4 linked regions of the Homo sapiens genome follow. The protein of the gene in region 1 interacts with the protein of each later gene in a biochemical or structural test. Each region holds a gene or a part of one and is shown on either strand. Other genes may lie near its edges.

Evidence for each region.
Region 2: the proteins of NGF (region 1) and LRP1 form a complex in vitro, tested with the Homo sapiens proteins (one study listed by BioGRID).
Region 3: the proteins of NGF (region 1) and SORCS3 interact in a biophysical measurement, tested with the Homo sapiens proteins (one study listed by IntAct).
Region 4: the proteins of NGF (region 1) and A2M form a complex in vitro, tested with the Homo sapiens proteins (one study listed by BioGRID).

The regions. Positions count from the first base shown.
Region 1 is NC_000001.11:115,285,897-115,293,727, reverse strand, and holds the end of NGF (beta-nerve growth factor precursor), read left to right. Parts: coding exon of another isoform or gene 1-101; intron 102-6,920; coding exon of another isoform or gene 6,921-6,932; coding exon 6,933-7,658; 3' UTR 7,659-7,811; downstream 7,812-7,831. UniProt on the Homo sapiens protein: Nerve growth factor is important for the development and maintenance of the sympathetic and sensory nervous systems.
Region 2 is NC_000012.12:57,194,483-57,202,166, reverse strand, and holds part of LRP1 (prolow-density lipoprotein receptor-related protein 1 preproprotein), read right to left. Parts: coding exon 7,664-7,684; exon of another isoform or gene 7,591-7,663; coding exon 7,468-7,590; intron 7,183-7,467; coding exon 7,066-7,182; intron 6,897-7,065; coding exon 6,768-6,896; intron 6,510-6,767; coding exon 6,387-6,509; intron 6,305-6,386; coding exon 6,164-6,304; intron 6,081-6,163; coding exon 5,890-6,080; intron 5,186-5,889; coding exon 5,002-5,185; intron 4,869-5,001; coding exon 4,783-4,868; intron 4,623-4,782; coding exon 4,503-4,622; intron 4,012-4,502; coding exon 3,824-4,011; intron 3,703-3,823; coding exon 3,497-3,702; intron 2,956-3,496; coding exon 2,767-2,955; intron 2,291-2,766; coding exon 2,142-2,290; intron 1,726-2,141; coding exon 1,632-1,725; intron 1,469-1,631; coding exon 1,352-1,468; intron 1,134-1,351; coding exon 1,014-1,133; intron 671-1,013; coding exon 548-670; intron 388-547; coding exon 262-387; intron 1-261. UniProt on the Homo sapiens protein: Endocytic receptor involved in endocytosis and in phagocytosis of apoptotic cells. Required for early embryonic development. Involved in cellular lipid homeostasis.
Region 3 is NC_000010.11:105,196,661-105,204,491, forward strand, and holds part of SORCS3 (VPS10 domain-containing receptor SorCS3 precursor), read left to right. Parts: intron 1-3,338; coding exon 3,339-3,456; intron 3,457-4,459; coding exon 4,460-4,593; intron 4,594-7,831. UniProt on the Homo sapiens protein: Plays an important role in modulating synaptic transmission and plasticity in the hippocampus, probably by affecting the trafficking and localization ofAMPA-type glutamate receptors in the postsynaptic density.
Region 4 is NC_000012.12:9,105,752-9,113,582, reverse strand, and holds part of A2M (alpha-2-macroglobulin isoform a precursor), read left to right. Parts: intron 1-39; coding exon 40-223; intron 224-893; exon of another isoform or gene 894-1,046; coding exon 1,047-1,206; intron 1,207-1,371; coding exon 1,372-1,424; intron 1,425-3,248; coding exon 3,249-3,269; intron 3,270-3,547; coding exon 3,548-3,716; intron 3,717-4,177; coding exon 4,178-4,262; intron 4,263-5,938; coding exon 5,939-6,059; intron 6,060-6,977; coding exon 6,978-7,092; intron 7,093-7,237; coding exon 7,238-7,347; intron 7,348-7,831. UniProt on the Homo sapiens protein: Is able to inhibit all four classes of proteinases by a unique 'trapping' mechanism. This protein has a peptide stretch, called the 'bait region' which contains specific cleavage sites for different proteinases.

The sequences.
Region 1 (7,831 bases):
TCCAAGGGGCTGGATGGCATGCTGGACCCAAGCTCAGCTCAGCGTCCGGACCCAATAACAGTTTTACCAAGGGAGCAGCTTTCTATCCTGGCCACACTGAGGTAAGTGCCTAAGGGACCTTGGCCTTGCCAAGGTCCTCCCTCTGCAGCTGCCAGAAGCAGGAGTCCCAAGTGACAGGACCTGAGAGGGCAAGTCAGAACCAACTGCTGAGCAGCAGGGGCCTAGAGAAGCTTTCAGTGGTGCAGCAAATGCAGCTCCCCTAGCCCACTCAGGAAAGGAAATCTTTTGTGCATGCAGGTTGGCCCCATGGGCCCCAGGGACATATCAGGAGTCTGAGCTGCATCAAGGGTCTAAAGTTGCCGAACACAGGACCTCGAATAGACAGCGTCAGTCAGACCCTCCACACAACTCTCTGGTCCGACTGAGCAGGGAACTTGCAAAATGGAAGGTTCACAGCCACTCTTTGTGCCCTTCACCAGTGGAGTAGAGGGGTAGGGAAGAGTTCCAAATCTGCACACAGGAGGTGTGGCTCCGAGTTCCACTTCTGTTTGCTGTGTACCTGTGATGCAATTACTTAATCTTACTACATCTCTGGTTTCTCATTGTTAAAATAGGAATAATATGGCCAACCTCCCAGGTTTGTGTAATGGTTAATTAGAAAATTATACCCAATAAATAATAATTACTATTATCTCAGCTCATTCATGTCAAGGTATGTCTTTTAGAATTCAGATCAGTAGATTTGGTTCCCATTAATGTATCCAGCACAGCTGCCCTCCGAGAGCCCAGTGACCCCACAGGCGCTGGTACCTGCTAGTGTTTTCTGGTTGCATATTTCTATCATGGGCATTTCAAGTGCTTTTAGATCAAGTCTACACGGTGCCCAGAAACCTAACAAAGCAGATATGAAAACAATTCAATATCTAAATATTCCCTAATATCTGGATTTATGGCATCAGGAAGGTAAAACTTACAATCTGTTGAATGGAATTTTCATTTCGATGTTGGGGGATGAGTATACTCACCCCACCACCTATCAGTTACAGTGTGCATACGGCTTCAGGCCTCTCTCCTCTAAAAGATAGCAAAGCTGAGCTCAAGTCAGGTGTTCACGGACTGGCCCTGCCACTCACTGGCTGCAAAAGCCCAAGTCACTTAGCCTCTCCAAGGCTCATTTTTGTCTTCTACAAAGTTAAAGAATTAGGCTAGACTCGTGGCTCTCAAAATATGGTCCCCAGACCAACAGCATCAGCATCATCTGGAAACTTACTAGAAATGTAGATTCTTAGTGTCCTCCTACCAGACCTACAGAATCGAGCATTCTGGAGATGGGGCCCAGCAGTCTATAGTGTAACAAACTCTCCAGGTGATTCTGATGCCCTGAAGTTTGAGAGCCTCTGGACTTGAATCTCTGATGTACCTTCTAGGCCATGCCTCCTCCCAATAAATCCTGTCCTAACAGAAGCTCTGGATTTTACTCTGTCGATGCCTCTCTCTGTTCAGCCCACCCCAGGACACCTCTGAAGTACCTTGCTGGAGAAATGAGGAGCCACAGAATTCCTCCCACACTCCACACCAGCTCCAACCCCCAAGAGTATTCGAGCCTTTACAACTGAAGACAGCAGCCAGTTAACATTTAGAGTGAAGGCCAAGCGTAAAACAAGAAATGACCCTTGGCCCACTCTCAGAATGTGGCGAATGAGATGGAGGAGGAGGAGGCTGGATTTCCTTGGCCACAAGAATTTCCTCTCTCACCAACTGTTAGTGACCCTGGTTCACGTATCCCATCTCTAGCCCAAGAATCACTCGTGGCTCTTGGCATGGCTGTCTCTAAGACAGGAATTCTCTCACTCCCTTCTACAACACATCTCCCCAGGCATGGTTGCCAAGCCTCCCAGTGCCATCAGCCCTCCTAACCACAAATATTTGGGCCAGTTGCTTAGCTCTGTTCAGCAGCTCCATCACCTATTCAGGTGAGGCCAGAATCTTTGAAGATCATTCACCTCGTGCGAGAAATTTATCCTATTATTGGAGTGTGTGAACCATTGGAAATCCACAGAATGTATCGCTGGTTCAGAAGAGGGCAAGAGGGCAGGGCAGCCCATCAGTGGCTGGTTGTAAAGGCATCCCAATGGGCTGCCCCACTCTTAGTCATGGATCTTCCATTCTAGGTAGGAGTAGGACAATTAAAGAGCATTCTCATATTAAATAGAACATGTTCGTTCATGTGAGCCCCTAACTGCATCCTCCTCAGCTGATCATTCAGCTTGCAGAGCTCTGCTTAATAAAGCCAGACAGAAAGCTGTCATCTGTTCAGGAGAAAGGCTTCAAAGGGTGTTTTTAAAAAATAAATAAATAAAACTTCTCCCCTGGTTCACATCAACCAAAAATAAAAAGAATGTTCTTTTCTAAATGGTGCATTATATCACTAGAATAGAAAATGCACTCAATTTTTCTTTTATCTACTGATCACTTTTAAGAGAGTTTTTTTTTAAACTTAAAAGTTTATAGGAACACACTCTCATGAGTAAATTAAATATTTTTTTAAAAAAACTTTAAACCTAAAATCTAAATGAGAGATATATTTGAGACATTTTCAAGTCTTAATGAAACATTCTGCCTGTGATACAAATCTCCATTGTGATTAAATGTGATACCATTTGGTATCTTGACTGTGAGTGGAAAAGTAGTGTTAGAGTGTAGGAACTTTGTGAAGTCAGTTCAGTCAAACCAGCAGATGCAAGGCAGGGTAGAAAACTTCATAATTACCTGAAATGAAAGAATATAATGGTTGGAAGATACCTTTAACATCATCATGCAGATGGAGAATTAAGGAACACTGGAGGCAGGAGACTTGTCTACATACTCACAGTTTCTTAGAGGAGGAGTTACCTAGGAGTTCTAGGTCACCTGGGGGCAACAAAGATGAGTAGGACACTTTGCTGCCTACAGGGAGTTTGTCCTCTAGAAGGGAGGATAAAAGAATACAACAGCCCTAAGAGAATATAAAGGGAAGGCTTTAAGAGATAGAGAAGGGGCAGGGCGTGGTGGCTTACGCCTATAATCCCAACACTTTGGGAGGCCGAGGGGGCGGATCACGAGATCAGAGATCAAGACCATCCTGGCCAACATGGTGAAACCCCGCCTCTGCAAAAAATAGAAAAATTAGCCAGGCGTGGCGGCGTGTGCCTGTAGTCCCAGCTACTCAGGAGGCTGAGGCAGGAGACTTGTTTGAACCCAGGAGGCAAAGGCTGCAGTGAGCCGAGATCAAGCCACTGCACTTCAGCCTGGGTGACAGAGCGAGACTCCATCTCAAAAAAAAAAAAAAAAAAAAAAAAAAAGATGAGAGAAGGTAGTTTGTCTCAGAATTAGAAAAAGCTCCCCAGGGGAAGCAGCATTGAAGTTGTTGAAGGACAACAGGAAGGATTCCACCAGCAGAGGTGGAGAGCAGAAAAGGCCCTGAGAGGGTAGGGGAGCATACCTGGAAGGGAAGAGTCTGAAAAAGGGCAGTGGTGGGGAAGCTCAAGCAGGAACTGCCCCCAGGAGTTTTGTGCACTCGGAATGCAAACTATGTGAGGGGAGTAGAAGGAGGCAGGATCCCATTGCCAGGCAGAGCAGTCCCTACTGGCTTACAGACAAGGGACTTGGCACCAGCTCCTTTGAGCAGGGTGATATGATCAGAGCAGGCTTTAAGAAGCTAAATGGGGTGGCCAGGGATAGGAGGAATTGGAAGAAGAGAGATGAGGGTCCAGGATATCAGGTGGGAGACTGTTCCCATGACCTGAACTAGGGGCCCAGAGATGAGAATGGAAGATAAAATACAGTTTCAAGATAATGCTACCAAACCAGAACCAAAAGGGCTGGATGGAGGTCAGGGAGGAAAAAGCAGAGGGATAAGCAGAGGTATGGAGCTAGTGGATGAATGAATGATGGTTCCAGTAACAGAAAAAGGAAACTGTGAAGAAGCGTGTTTAGGGAGATGAGGAGAGAGGATCAAGAGAGATGGTAGCTGTGAAACTATCATCAAATGGTCCAAAATGGGGCTGTTGCTATTGTATGCAGAGAAGGAAGATGGGGAGAAGATGATCCTAATTATGATTATGAGTATGAAGATTTTTGTTTTGGATGTCTTGCATTTAAAATGCCAGTATCTATGGAGAATTGCCCTCAGGAAGCAGGAGGGCAGAACTAGCTTCAAAAGACTAGTTGATTCGAGATCCAGGTATGGGAGTCAATTGCACAGAAATTTCGATGGGCTCCTTAGAAGAGGAGGAGCCCACCAAAGGAGAGACCAAGAATGAAGTGGGAACCTCTGGTAATGGGGAATAGGGAGAGGTATGTCCCTTATGTCCATCGAAACCCTTTTATTTAGTTAATTTCATTTTCCTCTTGAAATTCTAGCAAGTGTTACTAATTTGGATATAAGGGAATGAATTTCAGTTTTCTTTCTTCTCCTTTAATGTATCTGATAAGAGATATTATGTACCGAGAAGAACAAAGAAGTGAAACATGAAAAGGAGCAAAAGTAAAAGGTTTAGATTTGCTGCCAACTGAATATTCAGTCCGCTAAGAGTTGACCGGACATTTATCTGCAAGACCATTAGCCAACAGATCTGGTAATGGTCAAAACCCCAGATATGCCATTGCCTCCTTTGCATGGTCAGCTGGAGAACTGGAGCAAACAGAAACATTCTTCAAAGAAACCAAAGAGAAAAGAATTTGGTGATTTCCTTCTTGGTATCTCACCAAAGAGCTGTCTATTTCCAGCTGAATAAAAGCACAGTATGGAGGAGAAGAATGTGTTGCCTTAAAACAGATTAGAAAAGCAGTGTGTAGCCATATGCACAAAGGCCAAAAGAAACCACACACTGTGATGGAAAGAAGGCAGATGGTGAGCTTCTCTTGCCACTCTCATTCATTCTTTCTTTCATTCATTCTCCTTAAATTTTTTGAGTACCTACTACATGCCAGACACGGCAACTGGCCCTGGAAATATTGAAATGCAAATTGTGCAGCTTGCAAAGCCCTCTCAGGGAGACAGACAAGTTAATGATTATCCACAACCCTAGGAGAGGTGATAGGGTTATGCACAAACTGCTGTGGAATACAAGGGATGGAGTGCCCAGATACACAAGTGGATGAGACACGGCTCCACCCTCGAGTATCTCACAGTCAGGGTGAGACAATAAAAATGGCTTTGAAGGAGGTCTGAGAGAGGTAAAACCAGCAGTAGAAAGCACAAAAGACAAAGTCCTTGACCACAAGGAGACAGAAATAACTCATGATTTACACAAATTTTGTGAGAACCTACTTCATCCTAACAACTACTCTGGGAGATAGTGTTTTTTGCCCACCTCCGATCAATGGGAACGCTAAGGCTCTGGGAAATTAAATGGGTTTCTTCTGCTAACAAGTAGTGGAGTAGGAATCCAAACACGATTTTCTAACCCCCAGACCCAATGCAGAGTTCTTGTCATTACACTGATTTAGTAGGAGAGAACACACACACTCACACTCACATGAACACACACATATGCACATACAATTACGCTATTCTGAAGTGCAGAATGGCAAAAGATCATTTTTGATTGGAGTGATCTGAGAAGGCTTCGAGGACTAGGTCGTATCTGTGTGGAAACGGAGCAGAATGACCCATAAGAGTGGGAAGGAGAGATGGGAGAAAGGATAGAATTGGAAGTTTGTAGAGCACTCTTACAAGAGATATTTCTGATCCTACCAGGAAGATCTATGGAAGCTTTACAGAGGAGCTGACGTTTGCTACACATCTACAAGTATGCATAGGAGCTCCGCGGAGGCCAGTGAGAGGCCCTCCAGGAGCAGAACTAATTCCACAATTACTTGACCAAGTTGGGGGATTATTTGTGGGGTAACTGCAGTGCAGTATGGAGTCCTCTTGGGGACAGTTAGAGCCATACCATTTGATCTATAGTCACATAAGAACAAACAATAAAAAGAAAAGACATGCTTAAGAGTGAAAGAGAAAGGGAGGGAGAAAAGAAGGAAGGGTGGATGGAAGGACACTAGCTTAGTAAGGGGTCAACTTTGGATTCTATTTCTGGTTCAGTTTTCATTTGTGACTTCAGTGCTTTAGTGTTAGTTCATTTTCTGTGAATCAGTTTCCTTATATGTGAAATAAATATGATAAATCCTAATTGAACTCACAGACTCATGAGAAGATAGAAGTGAACACATTTTAAAAACATCACACAAAGAGGAACTATTATGTGGTCCACATTTATATATGTGGGGTAGCGTCTGAAGAGGTGCCTGGACTAAGATGGTCCCAGAGCCACAAGGTTTTTGCCAAACATGACGCTTTGTGAATTCATAACAAGGGCTCCGAGTCACCAGATCTTAGAGCTGACCCAGTGCACTGTCTGAAAGGGGGTACCCAGTTCTGAGGCTTCAAGACATGTCCCCAGCAGATCTTCCCCGTGCCTTCCCAGAGGATTCAAAACTGTTGAGCAGGACGGCACCATCACATCAAGGCACAAGTGCCAGGGAGAGATGTTAAACTCTCCCCACCGGCCTCCCTGGTACACACATGGACACTTACCACCTCCCTCAGCCGCCTTAAGCTTCAGAGAACTCAAAGGACTCTGTAAGTGATGTCTCCAAGCTCATATCGAACTACTGGGCAAAATTTCAGGGGCTCTGTCACTTCCTGGAGAAGCTCGGATGGGGTGACCACACATCCATACTGCCTGAGTCAGCCCCGGGTTACGCCTGTTGTCCCGGTATAACCATTGCTAGCACACCCTTTCCCTCTCAGAAGTGCCCCGGTTTGAATGAAACCTCTTCGTGATCCCCTTGGGAGGTCAACTCTGAGGGACCCAGAAACTGCCTTTTGACTGCATTTAGTACTCCATGAAGTCACCCTCATTTCTTTTTCATTCCAGGTGCATAGCGTAATGTCCATGTTGTTCTACACTCTGATCACAGCTTTTCTGATCGGCATACAGGCGGAACCACACTCAGAGAGCAATGTCCCTGCAGGACACACCATCCCCCAAGCCCACTGGACTAAACTTCAGCATTCCCTTGACACTGCCCTTCGCAGAGCCCGCAGCGCCCCGGCAGCGGCGATAGCTGCACGCGTGGCGGGGCAGACCCGCAACATTACTGTGGACCCCAGGCTGTTTAAAAAGCGGCGACTCCGTTCACCCCGTGTGCTGTTTAGCACCCAGCCTCCCCGTGAAGCTGCAGACACTCAGGATCTGGACTTCGAGGTCGGTGGTGCTGCCCCCTTCAACAGGACTCACAGGAGCAAGCGGTCATCATCCCATCCCATCTTCCACAGGGGCGAATTCTCGGTGTGTGACAGTGTCAGCGTGTGGGTTGGGGATAAGACCACCGCCACAGACATCAAGGGCAAGGAGGTGATGGTGTTGGGAGAGGTGAACATTAACAACAGTGTATTCAAACAGTACTTTTTTGAGACCAAGTGCCGGGACCCAAATCCCGTTGACAGCGGGTGCCGGGGCATTGACTCAAAGCACTGGAACTCATATTGTACCACGACTCACACCTTTGTCAAGGCGCTGACCATGGATGGCAAGCAGGCTGCCTGGCGGTTTATCCGGATAGATACGGCCTGTGTGTGTGTGCTCAGCAGGAAGGCTGTGAGAAGAGCCTGACCTGCCGACACGCTCCCTCCCCCTGCCCCTTCTACACTCTCCTGGGCCCCTCCCTACCTCAACCTGTAAATTATTTTAAATTATAAGGACTGCATGGTAATTTATAGTTTATACAGTTTTAAAGAATCATTATTTATTAAATTTTTGGAAGCATCCTGTGTGCTGATGCTGGT
Region 2 (7,684 bases), on another chromosome or scaffold:
AAAACTCCACACAGGTATGTGTGGATGAGGCGTGGGCAGGGGCAGGGATAGGGAAACTGGGAGACATGGGGCACGGGTGGATGTGGGGAAGTGAGCTCCAGCCAGGCCTCCTTCCCCAGCCCCACAGCAGGCCCAGGAAGCCCAGCAGCAGGGCCACGCTGAGACCGGTAAGCAGGCGGCCCCCAGCCCTCCACCTGCCAGGGGTGCCATGCCTCCCACCCAGGTAGACTGTCTTCCTCCTGGAGTGGGGTCTCGGCTCACCACACTCTTCCTTGGGCTCATCCGAGCCATCCCCACAGTCATCCTCTCCGTCACACTTCCAACGCGCTGGGATGCAGCGGCCCGAATCCTTGCAGCGGAACTCGTCCACACCACAGGTCATCTGGGCTGCAAGCGGGTGGGCATGGGGTGAGGATGAGACTCCTTCCAGGAGTGTGCCGGGAGGGTGGGGAGAGTGAGGGAGCAGCCACTGAGGGGGTCACACGTCGGGGTGGTGTGAGCAGCAGACACTGGGGAGGGAAGCTGGGCTCCAGGCCAGGCAACTCACTGCAGTTGGCGGGCTCATCACTGCCATCCACACAGTCATTGTCCCGGTCGCAGACCCAGACCCGGGGGATGCACCGTTTGGTAATGGAGCACTGGAACTGGTTGGGGGCGCAGGTCACCTCGGCTGTGGGGTGGGCAAGAGAATGAGGGCCCTCCCTTACACCTGCCACTCCAGTTCACCATCACTGTCTTCTCTCTCTTCCAAGCCCTGGCCTTGGTCCTGCCAGCAACTTCTTCGGAGGAAGGAACAGTTTATCCCCAGTTTTGGTGCTTTTTGTTTTCTGGATCTCTATGTCTCTATATCATGCATGATGATTTTTATGAGCAAAGCAAGTTACACCCAATATAATTTGTGTTGCCCATCTACTAAAGTTATTTGAGAGCCTCTCAAAGCTGTGGGGAGATTCTGCCTGCCCTGCTTCCGTGTCATCTCCCACCACCGGCCCACCACCACCTCTGACACTCACGGCAGTCCCTCTCATCCTCCCCATCTCCGCAGTTGTCCTGCCCATTGCAGCGGAAGATGCCGGGAATACAGCGGTTGGTGTTGGTGCATTTGAACTGACTGGGCAAGCAGACGTGGATGTCTGTGGAGGGAGGAGGAGGTGATTCGTGGCGAAGGGAGGACTCAGGGGCAGGGAGAGGGTGCCCATCCCTCAGCAGGGAGGACACAGGCTTGAGCCATAGGAATCCAGCCTGGAGAGCAAGCTGCCGTGGGCTGCAACTTCCCTGCACTTGAAAGCCCCAAATCCTGGGGCAGGGAAGATGCTGGGGAAGGAGGGAGGGTGGGCGGGCAGCGCCTTACCACAGTTGGCCTCGTCACTGTTGTCCTGGCAGTCATTGTCGCCATCGCAGATGAAGGCAGGGTTTGTGCAGATACCTGTGGAGCACTGGAACTGTCCGGGCCGGCACTTGAACTCAGCTGCCAGAGAGGGAGGCTCAGAGTCAGAGCGGCTGGGGTGGACACGGCCAGGTCCACTTGCAGGGCACCACAGCCCCAGCCTCTCCAGTGGCCATTCAAAGCCTCAGGAGTCAGGCCTCCGACACAGCTGGGGGCCCTCCTGTCACCCCCAGCAGGCACTCACGGCAGTCCGGGGGCTCGTCTGAGTGGTCCCCGCAGTCGTCCTCGGTGTCACACTTCCACCAGAAGGGGATGCACTTGTCGTTCTTGCATACAAACTGGAGGGCAGGTGGGGGCAAGAGGGGTTGGTGGGGGTCTGGGGGACTCAGAAGTCTTTCTTTTGAGGGGCTTGGATGTTTCAAAGAAGTTGAGGCAGGGGTCAGGGTGTTATGGGGCAGGTTGGGCTATGGTGAGTTCGGAAAGGCCAGGTATGGGGCTGCGTGGGATAGGGTGGGGAAGGCAGCACTGAAGCATGGCAAGGAGGGTCAAGGTTAGGGTGTGGAGGTGTCTGTGTGAGGTGACGGGGGTAAAAGTATTGCTGTGGGGAGACAAGAGGTAGGCAAGAAATGTGGGGGTGTTAGTGTGGGAAAACCAGATGCATGAGGACATTAGGACAGAGCAGGTGTTGGGGTCCAAGGAGGATTTGGGGGTTGGGGAGCGGGCACTGGTGATGGGGTCTGGGGGACAGCCTCACCTGGCTAGCCGTGCAGTTGGACACACAGGTGCGCCCATCGCTGCCCAGGTAGAAGTTGGTGGGGCAGGCACATTTGTGCCCTCCCCCGGGGGACAGCAGGCACAGGTTGCTGCAGCCACCATTGTTGACCTTGCAGGGGTGATTGGGCACTGCCAGAGAAAACGTCGTGAAATATGGTGACATTTTCTGGCCTACCAAAGGCTGCCTCACTCACTCTATCCTGGACAGAGGCGGGTGGGTCTGAACCCTGCCTCTTTTAGGAGGGAGCTGAAGCTGGAGATAGGAGAGGATTCTAAGGTCCCAGGATCAGGCCAGGCCTGAAGGCCAGCTCCCCACCTCCTCTGTGCTTCCCTCCCAGGGGCCGGCCTGCCTTCCTTCTGGGGGCTGGGCACCCAGACCCCCACTTGACTGGCCTCAGGGACTTGCTGCTGCCAGACTCCAGGGCTGGATCCAGGCCGGGCTGAAGCTCCCGGGAGCCAGACCATCCCCTGTCTAGACCCTCCTGGAGTCTCCCAGTGTCTGGCCAGGAGGGCTTGGTCAATGCTAGAGAAGGGATGAGCAGGAACTCCCAGGGACCCCGGTGCCTGGCTCACCGTTCGCCTGCTCCCACCCCTTGCCTGCTCACCGTCTGGCTGGCGCAGGGCATGGAAGACATGCAGGTCCATGGGCCGGTGCAGCGTGCTGATGAGGAGCGTTTTGTTGGTGCCCGTGGTCTTGTGGGCTCGGTTAATGGACTTTGTTTCCCAGTCGGTCCAGTAGACGTAGTCCTCAAACAGGGTCAGTGCAAAGATGTGCGGGATGTCCTGGCTCAGCACTGCAGGGCCAAGGGGCAGGCACAGTGCCAGTCAGCCGGAGCTCGGACAGGGTGCCGGCCCACTCCACCTCCTCAAGCCCTACCACCACCCTGAGAGGTGGGTGTCAGCCCCAGTTACAGATGGTTCATGGTACAGACCCCCCATGGTCTCACAGCTAACAAGTGTCAGAGCTGGAGTTCAAACCTAGACTGCCTCATGGCAAGTTCCTGCCCTGCCAGTGTATGGCTCCCCTCGGGAAGTGGGGAGCACTGCAGTTCTCAATCGCAGGCCTCCCACCCCCACCCTCCTTGGGGCCAGTCCTCCAGAACTGTGTATACAAGGGAAGGGCCTCTCCTCTTCCTTCCCAAGGGAGCTGGGTGGTGGCCAGGCTGGGGAAGCCCCCGGGGTGCTCTGAACCCCACACCCCAGTGAGTGGTGTCCTCAGGCCATATCCTCCGCTTTTTATGTCCACTCTTGCCCCCAAAACTTGATCCCCTGTCGCTTCAGACCTCCATCCCCACTGAGTCTGCTGTGCCTGGACAGCCTCACTGGCACACTGACCAACGTGGCGATTGGAGCCATCCAGGCTGGCAAATTCAATGTAGTCCTCGCGGGCGTCGGCCCAGTAGATGCGCTCAGTGACATAGTCCAGCGTCAGGCCATTGGGCCATGTGATCTTGGTGTCCACGATGACGCTGCGGCTGGACCCATCCATGCCGATGCGGCCGATCAGTGAATGGTCACCCCAGTCTGTCCAGTACAGGTACCTGGCGATGGGTAGGCAGTGAGCCCTGGGAGATCCCGTAACCCATCGCACCAGTGGCCTGCAGGGAGGCTGGGCTTGGATGCTGCTTTCAGGGGCTCCCCCAACCCTCCTCAGCCACATACCCATTCTGCACATCCACCACCAGAGCCCTGGGCTCACGGAGGCCAGAGCTGACCAGCACCGTCCGATAGGCCCCATTGAGCTTGGACACCTCGATGGTGTCCCGGCCTTTGTCGCACCAGTACAGGTTGCCACCCACCCAGTCCACAGCCAGCCCATCGGGGTTGCTGAGGCCTGTACGGTGTAGGACCTGCAGGAAGGGGCAGGGGAGGGAGAGCTCTGGGTGACCTGGGGGAGGACCTGCAAGCCTCTGTGAGGCTCAGCCTCCCCTCGTGTAAAATGGGGTAGAGCTCCCTCTGACAGCTCTGGTGGGAGAACCATGGAAGTAAAATGCCCAGTCCTGGGCCTGACACTGTGTAGGTGTCAGCAGAGGCTCTAGGAGAGGGGGCTCTAGGTGAATGGGACCACGCCCCAAGCCTCACAGTGCTTGGCCAGACCTCACAGGGAACTTCCTGATGATTAAGGAGACATGAGGCTGGCAGCGAGGGGAAGGGCAAGAGGAATCTCCCAGTCCTTGCTGTCTGGGCCCAGAGGAGAGTGAGCAGCTAGAACAAGCAGTCATATAGTGACTAGTGGAGTGAGAAGGAAGCAATTTGGGTTGGTGGGGCGGGAAGGAGAGACGATCTGAAAACAGTCATCTGAGGCGGGCCAGTGTTGGTCGCCGAGGGCCGCCCGCCTCACCTGCACATTGCTCCCGTTAAGGTGCATCCTTCGGATCATGCTGCCCTGGGTGGTCACATCTGTCCAGTAGATCATCTGCTCTCGGTAGTCAAAATCCAAGGCAACGGCGTTGTTCAGGCCCTGGATTTGGGGAGTGAAGGACAGCAGAAGTCGGTTGTGGCAACAGGGGCCACATTTGCATCTGGGGGAGGGATGGTTGGACCTAAGCGGGGAGACTTGCAAGGGAGGCTGTGCTGGGTCTGGGAGATGGGCAGCGGGGAGGAGGGCCTGGGTTTGGTACCTGCTTAAGTAACGTGTAGTTGGACCCGTCCAGGTTGAGCTTGCGCAGGTAGTACCGGTTGGCGAAGATCAGAAACGGTTCCTCGTCTGCAGACAGAGGATCTTGCCTCAGCTCCTGGCACATTCTAGCGGCCCTGGTCTCCTGCCTGTCTGGAGCTCTGCCACCCGGGCAGTCCCACACAGCCTGGGTCACCTCATGCCCTCCAAGCGCGCATCTCACCAGTCACAGCCTTGCAGCTGTGGGGGTCGCCGCCGCGGGGTGCATAGCCCTCCACACACAGACACTTATAGCTGCCATGAGTGTTGATGCAGCGCTGGCTGCAGGGGAAGGTGGTGCTGCACTCGTCCACATCAGCACACGTCCGGCCGTCGTCCTTCAGCCGGAAGCCAGGGCGACAGCGGCACTGCAGGCACAGGGAGCCTTGGGCTGGGCATGTGGCAGGGTCTGGGCCTCCCACCCTGGAGACCTGGCTCAGAGACTCCAATTCCCTCTACCCGGCCTCACTAGGGGCAGCAGCATATGGGTACTGAGCCCACCCAGCTGGCCCACAGTGCAGGCCTCCTTCTGTGTGCCCCCGAGTGTCATTTGACAGAGCTGCGTGTGCCCTCCCCATGGAAATGCTTTCTTCTCGTGGCTGTTCTCCTGCCTCAGCAGCTGCTCCTTCTCAGGCTCTTCTGCTGGTCCCCTCACTTCCCTGCTCCTGGCTGTTGCTCAGCTCGGGGCTCAGACTTTGGACTCCTCTCTTCTCCACCTACACTGCTCCCTTGGGAATCATATCCAGGCTCACAGATTCAAATAGCATCTCTATGGTGATAACTCCCAGACTTCCCTCTCCAGCCTGGGCCTCTCCTTGAACTCCAGACCTGTGTATCTCTTGCCTACTTGATGCCTCACTCCTCTCTTCCTCTCACACTGCATATCTCATCTGTCAGCAAATCTGCTGGCTCTCTACCTGCCAGATAGAGGCAGACCCCAACCAAGCAGATTTCTGTCTCATTCACTGCTGTATCCCCACTGTCTAGGGGATGAATGAATGAATAAGGCAGTGGAGAAAGGCGTTCCTGGCACGTCTGGGGTGTGGAAGCTCCTCCCCAGGGCTGGGCATACCTTGAAGCCGATCTTGAGGTCCTCACAGTCCTGGCTGCAGCCACTGAGCTTGCGGCTGAGACACTCATTGATGTGGCAGCCACGCTCGTCCGAGCTGTCGCCACAGTCATCCTGGCCGTTGCAGAGCAGTGCCTCAGCCACACAGCGCCCACTGCTGCACAGGAACTGTGACGAGGCATTGCACTTGTGCTCTGCGGAGGGGCGGAGGCGGCAGGTCAGCGGGGTCTCAGGCAGTCTGGGGAGGGGGCAGAGGGGAGCCAGGTCTGGGGCCCACCTTGGCTGGTGCAGTGTGGGTTCTTGGGAGCCTCGTCACTCTGGTCGTGGCAGTCATTCTCGCCATCACACTCCCACTGGCGGGAGCTCAGACAGCGCCCATTGGCACAGCGGAACTCACTGGGGCCGCAGGTCGGGTACTCTGGGGGAGGAATGGACCTGTGAGGCTGATGCCCTGGCCCGGCAGAGGGCAGGGCCTCCTCCCACCACCGCCGAAGGCTCACCACACTCGGGGGACTCATCAGAGCCATCTGCACAGTCACGGTCGTGGTCACACACGAAGTGCTTGGGGATGCACTGGCGGTTCTGGCACATGAACTCACGGTCGTCACAAGTGCTGTTGTACACTGTGGACAGAGGTGGACACAGCCCTTCAGCCCTGCCTGGCCAGCGGCCGACCGTCCCTCACTCTAACCTCCTGTGGTTCTCCTGGTAGAGTGGGCAGGGCACTGGATGAGGAGTCTGGACACCTGGGCTACAGCTATGGCTCCGCCCCCAGTGGACCCCGCTGAGGCATTTCCTCTCCTGCACCCCGGCTTCCCCATCTGCAAAGTGAGACTGTGGCCATTTGCTGTCCACCCGCTCCACGTGGCCCCGCCACTCACAGCAACCAGCTGCGATGCTCTCGTCTGCACCATCAGCACAGTCTTTGTCACCGTCACAGAGCCAGCGCTCGGGGACGCACACGTGGGTGCCAGGGCAGGAGAAGGAGGAGGGGCCGCACGTCTTGCCTTCTGTAGGGGGAGAGAGGGCCACTGAGAGACTTAGGAGCGGGTAGATCAGGTCTAGCAGTGGAGGTGATGGTTCGCCGTCGTCTGCAGGGGTGTCTGTGTGTGGGGTGGAGTTGGGTGGGGTCTGTCCCTCCCTGGGGCACCTCCCCCGGCCCAATCCCAGCTTCCTTACCACAGTGAGCAGCCTCGTCTGAGCCATCCCCACAGTCATCGCTGCCGTCACACAGCCACTGCTTGGAGATGCAGCGATGGTTCTGGCACTCAAACTGGGCCTCTGAGCAGAACTTGTCTGGGGCAGTCAGAAGCCACAGTTAGATGGGGAAGGGTGGGGGTCACCCACCTGGGGAGGCTGATGCCATGGGAAGGACAGGAGAGATGCCCACAGCACCCCTCTGTGGGGGGGCTCAGCAGCAGCTAGAGGCAGAGTCTCTGAGTCTGACCTCAAGAGTTGGGGTGTGGGGCAGGGGGTTGAAGGCTCTGGATGCCCTTTTCCAAGGGGGCATTTGCTGGGGGGGACTAAGAAGTGGGGCCCAGCAGGCTCTTGGAGCACTGAGTGGGTGCAGTGGTCACTCACTGCAGTGGGTCTCGTCCTCGCCATGTTCACAGTCATCCTCTTTGTCACACGTCCAGCTCATGGGGATGCAGCGCCCACTAGGGCAGGCGAAGTAATTCAGAGGGCATCTGGGGCGTTTCACACCTGGGGGGCGAGGCAGGTGTGAGGGCCCTGCTCACCGCAGGCCACCACCCACCACACACCTGCCCCCGCCCACCTGGGCAGTCGCGCTCATCAC
Region 3 (7,831 bases), on another chromosome or scaffold:
TTTTCATGCAAGAGAGCTCCCTAGAATATCAACCTGCTGCTCTTCCCTCACTGCACTTAGGAATCCTAAGTCATGTCCAGGTTAACTAGCCTGAGTTCTTACACTGCAGTTTGGGTAGATGAAAGTGGTCTTGGATCATATTGCCACCTGTATTAGTTTCCTGTGGCTGTTGTAACAAATTTAGTGGCTTAAAAGAACAGACATTTATTCTCTTGTAGTTCTGGAGTTTAGAGTCCACAATCAAAAGGTCAGCAGGCCTCTACTCCCCTGGGGCTCTAGGGGAGAATTCATTCTTTGCTTCTTCCATCTTCCTGAAGTTCCAGGTGTTCTTTGGCTTGGGCTGCATAACTCCAATTTTGGCTTCTGTCTTCACATGGCCTTCTCCTCACTGCATGCTACTCATCTTTGTGTCTTTTATAATGATACTTGTCATTGGATTTAGAGCCCACCCTGATAATCCAAGATGATCTCAACTCAAGACCCTTGATTTATAAGTGCAAAGATACTTTTCCCACATAAGGTCACATTCATAGCTCCAGGGAATAGGAAGTGGTCATATCTTATTGCAGGTTACCATTCAATGCAGTGTACCGTCTTAGTCACTCTCTTCTTCAGTGGTCCTTAAACTTTAGGAACTATGAACCCCTTTGAATAATCTGATAAAATATATGTGATTTTTATTTATAGATGAGTACTTATGTGCCATTAAGCACCTTTTTGTTTGTTTAAAATTTAAGCAGATTCATACTTCACCACCACTACCAAAGCCCAAACATGTGCTGTAGATTCAAACACTCAGTCTATATCCTTCTTGAATGGTAACAGTCAAAAGCAACCACAATTTTCCTGGTGATCTGGTTAATGTAGAAAAAAACAGGTTATTGCCTCTTTGGTTCTAGACAATACATATAATTCTGTTAATGCATTTCAAGATCACGTTAAATATTTTATGTCTCCCTGAAGTGTTCACATTGTGTGTGGAAACTCTTAAGCTGCTATTATTATTACTATTAAACCTGAAAAGTACCAAGCCCCATTTCTTTTATCTGGTACTTATGTAATTACCATGGAGAGGATCTAGCTAACATTTCTCTAGGTGACATCACACCTTATTAAATTAAGCCTGTCTCTTTAGTCTGTCACGACCTTATTGAGTCTTGCTTCTGCCATCGAGCATATTGAGGGCTTCCTCCAGCTTTATGTCATCAAAAAATTCAATTTCCAATGATGACCATTATTTTCATGTCTTCAAGTCGTTAATAAAAATGATGAACAAGAAAGAGCAGACAACAGAACCTTGCAGCGGACTACTCACACCTCCCTCTTGGTTGATTTTAATGTCTTCATTAGGTACTGTTCAGCCACATAATTTTACCAAGCACCTGGCTCATATTTTCTCAATCTTTTTGTCAAGATTCCTATGACAGACCCTGTTCAAATGCCATGCTGGTATCCAGGTAAATCATGTGCTTCACATTTTCCTCTTCTGTCTGCCTAGTAACCTTTTAATAGAAAGGAATGTGATTAATCTGACATGACGTTTTTTGTGATCCAGGAAGTAAATTTGAACTATGTGGAGTCAACAGAAATATATGGTTTAGCATCATTAACATCCTGCACTAGTAAGTCTTCCAATCAGGGAAGACTTACTGCTGGAAGTGGTATCTGAATGCGAGAGTTTTGAAGGCTGGATAGAGAAAAAAAAGATATCCATCAAGGTCTCCTCCCACTGTTTTTGTTTGTTTGTTTCGTTTTCCCTTGATGAGGCTTATCAGTTTAACTGTCCTCTCTTCAAACAAGCAAAAATGTTTGATAAGAGAGAGCTGTTTTGTTAAAGATTTAAAATGGACTGACCGCTATGTAAAATGAATTTAGAGCTAAGAAATGGAAATACCTTAGTGGATGACCTGGCATTGATGAATTGGATTTGGAAACCACTGGATTTACCAAGACTACAAGAGAACAGAGAGAACCCAGGGAGAGGGAGTTAGGTTTGCTTTGCTCCACAGTGTCAGCTGCATATGTTGGGTATTCTAGGCTCAGAGTTTCTCCTACCCCATGCTGAGCTTAGATCCACACAAAACCCATGTAGTTTTACTAAAGGAGAGATCCTGTCTCTCTTTCAAAGTCTGCTTAATTTTCTTTTAGATAAGCCTCTTAAAGGTTTTATTTAACTTTTATCTGAAGCACATTCAAAATTGATCCTGAGATGTATTGTAAATTGGATGATCCACAAAAGCAACTCTATATTCTTCCTCATTTCACAAGTTTTGTCAGTCTCTACCTTTCCCATAAGCATCCTCATCTTTTAGAGAGCATAAGAAAATGACCCAGGAAGAGAGTTAATCTTGTAGGTGTCACCATAACAGTATCTGAACTTGGGCAGAGGAGAATCCAGGGCTGGTAGTGTGATTAAGTCTTGCTGAAATGGAAGCCATCCAATTCCTTGAAAGACCTCAGTTGTTTTAAGTTCGCAGCATGATCGGTCTCCCCTTTACATCACTATGATAGATGTCTTGCATTGTAATTGCAAGACACGCCACCCGAGTAGAGTATGGATGATCAGTCTTTTTTTTTTTTCCATTTTTCTAGAAACAATTGATCATTCATATTTATAGGGCAATCAACTGCTGGGCTTTGAAAAGGTCAGTATTGATTATCTAAGTCACAGATGGTGTGCTTCTTTACTATACATAAATATGAGTTCCTTTTATGAGTCTGCTGTGATTCTTTTTTCTTTTTAAGGAAGGAGGAGGGAGGGTAGGTAGGTATTCATGTGCGTTAAACAATGGAATTTCAACTAACACTTAAATTCAACTAGGACTTTGCAGTTGGCAAAGTTGTACTTTAAATTAGCAAATTCATTCCTTCTACCCCAACACATATACTTACAATCCACTTTACAGATGAGGAAACTGAGTCCCTGTCCATGGACATGGGTAGGCAAAATGCCAGTGCTTGCATTAAGGAGAAATGGGAAGGCTGTGTATCTAAATCTGAACAGGGGTTTTATATGGGTGTTGAGTTTGGGACTACCGGTCCCAATTTTTTTTCTTTACTGGGCTTTTTATATTTTAAATGCTTCCTGTAATAGGCATATATTACTTTTGCAATTTAAAAAATGGTTGATTTAAAACCCACTGTGAATGACATGCCAGTTGATTGAATTGTATGGATAGTGGACTTTCTCCTTAATGGCCCTCAAGGAACTCACTTTGGAAGAATAACTAAAGTCCAGGCTGCAGTGAATCTCTATCTCCTTCCTAGTTTCTGTGCATTAGTGACTGACTATGGGACTTTCTCCCCTTGTGTCTCCCACTCCTCCCCTAAACACTTAGAGTTTTTGGCCACTTCAGCCTCCGCTCCGAATGGCAATTGGTGAAAGTGGACTACAAATCTATCTTCAGCCGGCATTGCACCAAGGAGGACTATCAGACCTGGCACCTGCTCAATCAGGTACACACCCCAGGGAGTTGGAGTGCTGGCTTTGAGGAGGAGGAGCTAGTGCAAGTCCGACTGGGTCTTATCTGAGCCTTCCTATTTAGGGGAGGAAGGTAGTGGGTCATCTGAGGATGTGGGTGTGGATTTGGAGAAAAGGGTGAAACACACTCAGGTCCAGTAGGGCCAGATGATATTTAGGAACTATCTCGCACCCTGGGATCCTATCTACTAATTGAGGTCACTGAGCTGCCTGGGGGAAAGGTGTTGATGATAACCTGGGGTTTTAGCTCTATCCATGGAGAAATGAGCTTTTTACAGCTAGAAGGCCTCCAAGAGTTGCTCATTTTATCTGCCAATGTGGAGGGCGAGAGCATTTCTCAGACTAGCCTGAAATAAGGGACCCAGAGCACTGGGAACAGGTCCACTGAGAAATGGTGTCAGGGTGGGTAGGTCTAGCAATGGTAGATATTTACTGCTGTGAGAAATAGGCAGACTTCTGCTCCAGAACCACTGGGTCCTTGTAATTTGTATCAACTTCTCCTTTCTTTGTTCTTGACTGGGAATTAAGATTTGGGCATGGTCGTTTATCATAGAGAAGGAACATTTTGGGTCAACTTCAATTTCCCTCTGAAGACCATGTGAAAAATGTGCCATAAATGGGCTCCTTTCCACTAGAATTGCTACTGAAGCCATTTGGGCAAATGTACCTGGTGGTCTGCAAAGATGCCTGGAGTCCTTACATTCTCTATGGAGGTGGAGCAGAAACGGGATGATGTAGACATCACTGGCTTGGGTGGGTGGAGGGTAGAAGTGGGCCCACCTTCCATAATGTTCCTTTTATGTGGTAGTGAAAGATTAGCACTTTTATTCTTGAAACTCCTGGATCATTACTGAGAATGAGACTGCTACATAAAGTACCTAAATGAGAATGAACAGGCTAATGCTTCTTGTTGACAACTGGTTTATTTCACCACCTTTTTGTTTTTCTGTCTCTCACACTATGGAATTTCTCTCTAAGGGAGAGCCTTGTGTCATGGGAGAAAGGAAAATATTCAAGAAACGTAAGCCAGGAGCTCAGTGTGCCCTGGGCCGAGACCACTCAGGATCAGTGGTCTCAGAACCCTGTGTCTGTGCCAATTGGGACTTCGAGTGGTGAGTTGTTTGGCATTTCATTACCAATTCCAACCAGGTCTTCACCTGTCTGTGGGGTGGGGTGGGGTGAAGATGAAGTTAGGAGAGGAAGCATGACGCAGAGATAGGAGGTGTATCTGCTGGCCTGTGGGCCCATCCATCCCAGTTACTGGGCCAGATGGGAAGTCTGCATTCCTGGAAGGAGGACAGGCTGAGGCATTTTCACAGAGAGAGTCACTGATCTATCAGAGCAGCATCTCTCAGGGGGCTTCTTCTCATCTACACTGAGCAGCTGTATTGGAAACTACTGGAGAAGTTGTGCTGGGCATTGACAGAGGTTAGAGAGCTACTGCCTTGCTGTTGCCTCCAGCCACATGCACTCTCACTGTGCTCTTCTACGTGACCTCTCTCTTGTTTCCTTTTTCTCCCCCTAATAACAGCAATGGAGAACAACCTTAAATCTCACTTAATGAAATTCAAATCTCACCTATAGACAATTACTCCCAAATTTCCAAATATTTACCTCTGGCCCTGGCCTCCCCCTTCTCTTGGTTGGACACATATGTGTCTGGCTGTCTACTCAGCATTCATCTCCTCTTGATTCACTATCAGGGTTATCAAACTTAAGGCAGCCAAAGCAAAGCTTTTCTTGAATCCCCTTCATTGGAAGGAGTCCCTTGCCCAGTTTTTCTAATTTCAATAAAACACACAGCTATCCACTCAGTTGCCAGAAGGGTTTGGTTTCTCCTTTTCTTTCACTGTCAGATCCAGGCCATCTGCAAGTCCTTGCAGTTTCTACCCTCAAAACACATTCTAAGTCAAATCACTTCTTTCCATCTCTCAGCTGTTTGTATCACTCCAGGAATCGAACTCTCTCCACATCCACCCTTGTCACTTAAAATTCATTCTCCTCACAGCAACCGAGATGGTATTTTAAAAACTCAAACCATATCTTATCACTACTACACTTAGAATACTCCAATATCTTCCCCCTCACTTAAAATCTAATCTTCTTTCCTTAGTTTCCTCCATTGTAGGTGATTTAGCCCTGCAATTACCTTTATGTCAAAATTCCTTACTGTTCTTACCTCATTCACTGTATTGCAACCGCATTACCACCTCCTGCACCTTTATTAATCCTGGCTCATTCCTAGCAGAGGGAGCAGAAAATGCAAGAATTTCTTCCAAATCTTAGTATGGCCGGCACCTTTGAGTCACTCATGTCTCAGCAAAAATATCAGCTTCTCAGAAATGCCTTCTGAGACCACCTAATCTCACCTATACCCTGGCACAGTCTAGTATATCCCTGTTTTATTATCTCCTTAGTATTAATTGCCGTACAAAATGAACATGTTTTTGATTGTTCCACTATCACCTATCTCTCCAGTAGAATGTAAGTGCTGGGAATGCAGGAGTTTTAGACTTTCCTTGTTTCTGCATCCACAGCGCCTGGCCCGCTGTAAACATTCAATAAAGAGTTGTAGCATGTTTCTGAACATTGTTCCTTTTAGGAGGGTCAAAAATCTCCCCAATTCTGGGAATGGGTACATAGCACTCCGATCCCAGCTGGATGAATTCTTCCCCTGCATCACAATAAAAAGCTAAAGTTCAATTTGATTATTTTGGTAGCCCATCTCAGCTTTGTCTTTGTTAAAAGACAAAACTAAGGGCTTGGGCATTGGCCTCTAAACTTGGGAGGGGCAGGGCAATGATGGAGCTGCATTTGGGCTTCTCTGGCATCAGATAGTCAAAGTAAGTCCAAGTGGGCACAGAGCAGCTGCCCCTGAATGGCAGCCTCACTTCTTCCAGCCTCATTTCATCCAGCTGGTTTTTTAGCTTGATTTGTACTAGAAACTATCCTTTGTTTCCCACTTTCTGCTAGGAATATAACTGGAAGCCAGAGGAGTGACTCTGCTCTCCACCTGTTCTTTATCCTTAAACTCATACCTAGGAAAGCATGGCTTCAGTGAAATTCATGAAAATGAGATATACTAAGTGTAATTTAAGTTTGACTAGCAGAGTCCTTTCTGTGACCATTTTGAGCCCTTGGCAGCAAAGTATATTTTCACATTGTGAAAAATATTTTCAATTATTAATCACAATTAAGCAAAAATAGTCACAGCAATGAGTGCAGTAGGCCACTCAAAATTATGGCTTGTGACATATTGATGTCAACCTGAATATTCAGAATATTAATTTTAGGCTTCCTTGTGTCCTTCTGCAGACTAACTCCATTGAGGCACACTGTCTTTGAATTTGTCATGATACATATTCTCCTGTGTCTCTGTGTGCCATAATAGACCCTCACCCATTGTTGGGTAGCATCACAAGTGAGAAGAAATAAGAACTGTAAAATATTTTCTCATCAGTAATTCCATTAACATTTACTGGTCTGGGCAAAAATTCTAGCACTGATAGTCACAGTTTTTGACCTTGGCAAGTTTTCTTAATCTTTGTGACTTCATCTCTATAGCTGCAAAATAAAAATACATGACATCTACCGCATTGGGTCCTAAGGAAGAATAAATGAATTCATATATTAATATACATCATTAATATAGATAAGGCATTTATCCTACTGATGTATAACATAGAAATACAACATAGGCTAGCTATTGCTGCTGCTGTTGATGCTGTTGTTATTCTTACACCCTAGGGTTAAGTGGTCCCTATGGTATTTTTGGAAGTAAACCAAAGCTTATACATCCAAATAAGCACTGTTTTCAGAGTAGGATCTTGGGGTCTGATCCATTTACTTCAGTACTGGTGGCATTGCTCAAAGTATTTCTGAACCCTTCTTTAGGGAGTGCTGTCAGAATCCATCTATAAGTAAAGCACGGTGGGAGAGGCGAGGGGGAGCCTTTACACGGCCTTCTGTGGTTCTCATACTTGCACTGGTAGAGGTACCATGTGGATCCAAGACGCTGTAATGTCAGGATCTTTATTATTGCCTTTTAATGAGAAGAAACATCTTGGATATAGGTTACTTGATCAAGGTTACATCCCTGGGAGAGAATGAGCTGGGGTTCAAGTGCAGATTTAGTTAAATTCCACATTCTCTCCTCTACACCCTGCCATTTCTCAAGAAATCAAACAAGTCTTTATTATTTTAGATTCATTTTGCTTCAGAAAAAAATAAAGTTTCCAAGTTTACTTACTCTAAAATTAAAACTCATCCCCAAGGACTTGGGTTTACTGCTGTTGATGAAATATAAGGTAGAATGTTTCCTCAACACTAAAACAATTTCCAATGAAGTAG
Region 4 (7,831 bases), on another chromosome or scaffold:
TTCCTTCACTTTCCTCTAACTGAACCGTCTCATTCCCAGGCAGTATATGGTTCTGGTCCCCTCCCTGCTCCACACTGAGACCACTGAGAAGGGCTGTGTCCTTCTGAGCTACCTGAATGAGACAGTGACTGTAAGTGCTTCCTTGGAGTCTGTCAGGGGAAACAGGAGCCTCTTCACTGACCTGGAGGCGGAGAATGACGTACTCCACTGTGTCGCCTTCGCTGTGAGTGTGGCTGTTTGACTTAATATACTTGGTTCTTTTAGTCAGGGTCATAGGGATCTAGTATTCTGTCAGATGAGGCTTTGGGAGGTTGGTAAGAACTGCAGGAAGGAATCCAAATGTAGCAAACTAAGTATAGAAATTAAGGAGCAATGCATGACTCTCCAGCCATGGGAGACAAATATTTACAGGCAAACTAAAAGTCAGCTTAATAATCACATAGAAACCCTATTAGCCAGAAAGGAAAAAAAAAAAAAGAAAATGTGACTTCTTAAAATTAAGATGGAAAAAATATTAATAAAGCAAACTAGACCAAGGCTCAACATGAGCCACCCGTGGTGGACTGACAGGAACACATCACTCCACACTACTTCTAAGAGTAAAAATTGTAGAAATTACCCTGAGCAAAGGTGTAATATCTCTTCAGAGTTGTCCACATGTGAGATGCTTACAGCCTAGTGTCAGTAAAATACGGGGTTTTTTTCCATAGCCTGTAAAACATGCTTCGACCATGCCCTTTTAGCATGTAATATCAGCCTGGTAAAGCTCAGCGTATAATTGAATCAAGACTGTTTCTGTGAGCTGTATGAAGGTGTGAATCTCACTTACAACCTCTCTTACTGATTTATTTTCCTCCACCTTGTGTCCTGTCTCCCCATTTGTAAAATGGCAGAAGTGATTCCTGTCCATGCCAACTTTCCCTGCTGAGAACAAGGGAGTGAAGTTAAGTAAGAAGGGCAAGATCTCCAGGGAAGAGTGCAACAGCAAATAGGGGAGGAGACCTGCGGGTGCTGAATGGGGTTTCAGGATCGGTCCTGTATTTCAGGTCCCAAAGTCTTCATCCAATGAGGAGGTAATGTTCCTCACTGTCCAAGTGAAAGGACCAACCCAAGAATTTAAGAAGCGGACCACAGTGATGGTTAAGAACGAGGACAGTCTGGTCTTTGTCCAGACAGACAAATCAATCTACAAACCAGGGCAGACAGGTATGAAGAAGCCTACAGACAGGACAACTTCAAAAAGGAAAGATCTTCTTCCCCTGGATGTTCCCCAGGCAAAGTTCCTATAATCTTGGTTCCTTAATAGCTTGTCTTACCAGCCTACAGGCCTACTTTGGGTTTGGGGGCTCATGAAAAATATTTCTGTTTCAGTGAAATTTCGTGTTGTCTCCATGGATGAAAACTTTCACCCCCTGAATGAGTTGGTGAGTTTTCTATTATCTACATAAAATGATTGTCTGTATAAACAGGCTGGGAACCTGTTTTTTGTGCTGAGGGAAGACCAGGGAGAGGAAGAATCTGGTATCATTAACAGTAACTTCTGGCATTACAACAGCACAAGATCCTAATCTAAAACATCATTCCAGGTAAAGAAAGTAGGTAATTCTTTCTGTCTTGGTGCTGGTACTCAGTCAGTTGTCACACAATTAAATTTACTTTTCGGATGGTTCTTAATTAGGACAATTAGAAAGATACATTCAATAGCAGACACAGAAAAATCCTCAAAGAACCTAAGCTCAAAAAACATTTTAAAGATTTAGATTTTTTCTATACACATCTACCAAAATCTTCACTATAAAGGAAAGTCAGGGTAATTAATTTGTTCCTCAAGACTAACTCTTGGTATCTGTGATAAGAAACAGTTCTTTCTATTGTAATGCAGACATCAACCCAAAGTCTTCATTTTTCTCTCCCAAATTAACTTCTTCACATTTTCTTATCTCAAAAAGAGGCAACTCTTCTCTTCTAGCTCCAAAGACAAAAGATTATGGCCTAGTTCTTGTTTCTCTTTCTCTCATACCCACATCCACTTCACTGGAAAATCATGTTGGCTTAAAATATATTCAGACTATTTCTTATCATCTGAACTACTGCTGCAAGCTAGTCCTAGTCAATGTCATCTCTAAATAAGATCATTACAATAACCTTCAAAGTGGTCTCCCAGCTTCTACTTTCACTCCTCTGTCTAAAATGAGGCACCACACCCATCACTCTGTCAGCCTAACTTGGCTTTGTTTTTCTATTTGCACTTACCACCATTCTATACGTATTGATTTTTAAAAATCTGCCTATTTCTATTATAACATAAGCTCCATTAAAACATGGTTTATTGTTCTTTTGTGCGTGGTTATATTCTCAATACCTAGAATGATACACAGCGCATGAGAAGGTACTTAATAAAGATTAGTTTTTAAAAATGAATAAACATTCATAGTAGCTTCTTATCAATGTTTATTCATTTTTAAAAGTAATATTTATTAAACTAAATTTATTAATGAAATATGTCCATTCCTCCTCATTCTTAGAACTACGTAAGAATTCTATGACCCATCTTAATGATTACATCTGAACATATTTACTTATAGTTACATAAGTGTTTATTTCTCAACCTGTAAAATTGCATAGCAAAGGATTGATCTTCACTAGGATGCTATAAGCACTTAAGACATGTTAATCCATTTTTAGTAAATGGCACTTTACATGTATATTTGTTGCTGAAGGCCTAGTAAGTTCTTAACATTATTTATTAATTGCTTAAAATAGATTAATGAAAAGTTCTATAAAATTTAATCTGGAATATTTCTGTATTTCACTATAGAGGGAATTATTCTATATGAAACTAATTTAGATTTTTTAAACTTTTTATTGTTTTTAATTTTTGTGGAAACATAGCAGGTATATATATTTATGGGTTACATGAGATATTTTGATACAGGCATGCAGTGCATGATAATGATTATGGATGATAATCATTATCATTATCCATATCATTATCCAATCATGGATAATGATTATTATCATGCATTGCATGCCTGTATCAATAAATGGAGTACCCATCCCCTCAAACATTTATTCTTTGTGTTACGAACAAATCCAATTATACTTTTAGTTATTTTTAAATGTACAATTAAATTATTTTTTACTATACTCACCCTGTTATGCTAGCAAATACTAGCTGCTTTGCTTATAAATGAGATTTAAGAATATTTGAAAATAATTATAAACTTCTTTTTTCTTTTGTCTTTCAGATTCCACTAGTATACATTCAGGTAAGCAACATGAAACATTCCATATTAAAAGGAAAGCAATACATATAGGGAAAATGTTCTTATTTCAGAGGTTTTTACAATATCTCAGAAACTTGTCATTAAAGGAGAAGCCTTCAAACTCCCATAGAGCTAGATGGCTATAACTCATCTCCTCTACTCACCCTTTACTACTACCCCATTTGACCTTTTTGTAGATAACTTAGGGTTTCCATAGATATCTTTTATTAGCTCCAATGCTCCAGGTGCTTTTGTAAGTTATAATTAATTTACTCATATAGGATCCCAAAGGAAATCGCATCGCACAATGGCAGAGTTTCCAGTTAGAGGGTGGCCTCAAGCAATTTTCTTTTCCCCTCTCATCAGAGCCCTTCCAGGGCTCCTACAAGGTGGTGGTACAGAAGAAATCAGGTGGAAGGACAGAGCACCCTTTCACCGTGGAGGAATTTGGTATGGATCATGAAAAGTCATCAAGCATTATTTTTCTTCATATTTAAACTCTTAGGTCCTGGAATTTAAGTTCATTTGGAGTCTTTCCATTTCCCATGGGTGACATTGGGCTTGGAGTAGAATTAATTACACCTAAGTCCAATGAGGACATCAGTGATCTGTGAATAGGACTTCACATAGCTTCGTTATTTTCTGTAGCAATATTTAATACCAACCCCCAAAATTAAAACATTCTTGTTTTAATGGAGTTTTCCATAATTAATTAAGCACACAGTGATCTCTCATAGTCCCTCAACTGAAATCTTCATTTGAGAGGAGGATAGATAAGAATAGATTGGAGAGCAGAGCTACCTTTTCAGAGCCCTAAAATATTATTAGGGAACTGTTACAGGGAACCTGAAAATAGGAATTCCCCCAAAGTTGAAAACCAATCACCAACCTTCTTTATCACCAATCAACAGTTCTTCCCAAGTTTGAAGTACAAGTAACAGTGCCAAAGATAATCACCATCTTGGAAGAAGAGATGAATGTATCAGTGTGTGGCCTGTGAGTTCATTTTTTAAAAATCTTTTGTGGGGGATTATTTAAAAGAGACTCACCATTTGGGATATTTTAACTACTCTCTCCGGGAGCAGTGGCAACACAAAAATTTTAAGTGCTTTGACAGCATCCTCATCTGTAGAATGTTATTCTCCTGTTGCTTTTCTATTTTTATTTTCTTTCACGTTCTTATCAGTATTATTCTATCATGAGGTAAGAAACTGTTTCTAGAGAGGTTATGCTAATAGGATTGATTCTGAAAGTGACAAAACTGCACACACACACACACACAAAATGGGAAGGGTGGATAGTGTTGAAGGGTATTGGTTCTGCCTTAACCAAAAATAACCAAACGTATATTAGGGAGATAATTAACACATGGCTATAGGGGAAATTCAATCATCAACAGATCATTTACCTGACCTTGCATGCTTACTGGAAAAATCACTTAGATTCAGAATTTGTAGAGATAGGCATACAACTGAAATCTCATCTAACTCACTAGTCCACCTAAGGCGGGTCTACATACCTGTCTGCACTGACATTTTTACGAAGAGACTGAACGTGATTTCTCAAGACAGTCTGTTCCAACCTTGAAAAGTCTTGTTTCCTGGATCTTATGTTCCCATCCATGGTGGCACACAGTAGCAGTAGCAGGAAGAGCAGGTATAGTCCTGTCCAAAGATCACACATGTAATACACCTACTATTCAGCTAGGCCCCTGCTCCAGTTCTGTCTCACAGTGATGGCCAAGTTCCTGGTTCCTCATAACTGGTGTGATCTTGCAAATAGACATACAGAGGACATTCTCAAATAGGAAAGGAGACAAATGCACTTGGAAACCCAGCAATTGTCTATGACATATTTACGACACAATCCCACTTTTGTAAAAAAGTAAACAGGCCCGGCGTGGTGGCTCACGCCTGTAATCCCAGCACTTTGGGAGGCTGAGGTGGGCAGATCACGAGGTCAGGAGATCAAGACCATCCTGGCTAACATGGTGAAACCCCGTCTCTACTAAAAAATACAAAAAATTAGCCAGGCATGGTGGCCAGCGCCTGTAGTCCCAGCTACTTGGGAAGCTGAGGCAGGAGAATGGCATGAACCCAGGAGGTGGAGGTTGCAGTGAGCCAAGATCGCACCACTGCACTCCAGCCTGGGCGACAGAGCGAGACTCCATCTCAAAAATAAAATAAAATAAAATAAAATAAAATAAAATAAAATAAACAAGTGAAACTCGATATAGAGATGGCTGCACATGGGGAGAGGATGATGGAAGAAGAGACACTATCGTACTAATAGTTTGTATTCCTAGGTAGACTTGAGGGCGTTTGGGTTTTTTTTGTTCTGTTTTGTTTTGTTTGTTTCGTCTTGCTGGTATTGTTTCTCTTTTAAGAACGGGTTTAAGTTTTATAATAAGAAAGACTTTTTTAAGATAAAACTAAAAAAAAACGAGGAAAAAAAAGAAATGATAAAAGAAGAATGTAAATTTCAGCATGTTGCAATGGAGATTTCTATAAGAGCCATTAGTGACTCTTGTCTTCAATATTGTGTGAGCCCAGCAGAGAGCAGAGGGAAGTACAGACAGGGAATATACTGTAGCTAAAGGGGAGATATAAATAGCTAGAAAATGGGGAGGTTCAGTGTCTGCTCTGATTCCTTTGGGAATGTTCTCATGACAGATACACATATGGGAAGCCTGTCCCTGGACATGTGACTGTGAGCATTTGCAGAAAGTATAGTGACGCTTCCGACTGCCACGGTGAAGATTCACAGGCTTTCTGTGAGAAATTCAGTGGACAGGTAGGTTGAACACTATTTTTTCTAGAGAATAGCGATAAAGGCATTGTTGAAAAGCAGTGAGTTGCAGCATTTTTCTGACGCAGGAAGAGAACAATCTAGAAGAGAATTCCATGTTGGCTATTGTAATTTTTCAAAAAAAATCATGAACTTAGCACAATGGGAATTATTTATTTCTCGTAATTGCCCATTGTGAGTGTTTCAGAACGATAGACACTGAGCCATCTAAAGCCTCCATGGGCATTCACTTCTACAAAGGAAGGAAAAAACCATACACCTCTTAATTGCCTTAGCTGGCCAGGCCATCAGTTCTGCTCTCTCTGTGAACAAGAACCTATCACATGGCCCCACCAAGATGCCAGAGAGTTGACAAACACAGTCCCCATATAGAAGGCCGCTTCCCAGCCACAGCTGAATATTATGGAGGAGGAACCAGACTTTGATGAGGAGTTCTAATGGTCAAGAGCAGATGTACTGTGTATTTCAAAATAGCAAGTGGACAGGACTTGAACTATTTCCAACACATAGAAATGATACATACTTGAGTTGGTAGGCACCCTAAATCCCGCGATGTGATCATTACACATTCTCTGCATGTAACAAAATATCTCGTGTACCCCATAAATATGTATAAATATTATGCATCCTTTGTACAAAAAAAATTACTCCTCAAATTTTAAGACATTTCTATCGCAATATATCTAGGGAATTTCAGATACCAAGGAATACATCTGTCAATTATACATGAGATATTGTTGTGAAATTTAATATTTAGTTGCTAGAGAATATTTATTGTGTCCTCGTCATAGAAAATGCCTACATGATGTTGTCCCCCCACAAAAATCACACCGGTTATCTGACCACTGATCTATTTAGTATAATATGCATTATATTTTTGTATTTTATTTTCTCCCTTCTTAGCTAAACAGCCATGGCTGCTTCTATCAGCAAGTAAAAACCAAGGTCTTCCAGCTGAAGAGGAAGGAGTATGAAATGAAACTTCACACTGAGGCCCAGATCCAAGAAGAAGGAACAGGTTTGTGTACTACATGGGTATAAGAGAAAACACAACAGGCATTGATTTTCTTAGCCAAATAATGAATTGTAAGTTGGGGGGAGGTGATAGAATTTTAGAGACATCATTCTTCCCAAAAATAACAGATTTTTTTCTCTTTTTTCAGTGGTGGAATTGACTGGAAGGCAGTCCAGTGAAATCACAAGAACCATAACCAAACTCTCATTTGTGAAAGTGGACTCACACTTTCGACAGGGAATTCCCTTCTTTGGGCAGGTGGAGTATTTTCCAGTTCACTCATCAACCCATGTACTGTTACCTAATTAGCACAATAGTTATGGTTTGTGCTAAAACCATGCCTGGTTAATGTTATCATTTAATATAACCAAAAGTATAAAATATCACCAAGGCTTGATTAGTATAACCAAAGGTATAAAACTACATAAAAATAGATTTATTCTTCTGTAAATTTGTGTATGAAATGTATGTAATTATCCTAAGGCCTTATTAAAATTAGTAGAGTTTTCCCCCCTTCTTTTGAAACAGCATTGTACAAGTCACTCAATCTCCTTCTCATGGTTTACCAGGCAGTCTCAGGTTTTTATGACATTTTCTCACAAGAATCTCAAAATTCATGCTGACCAGTTTCATTACGATGCTAACACTAACTTTGTATGGAAACAGGTGGGTAGGTGGTTTTAATTTTTATTTTGAAGTATTAAAGATTCTACAATAATGTTTATTTCATGGATAGTATATT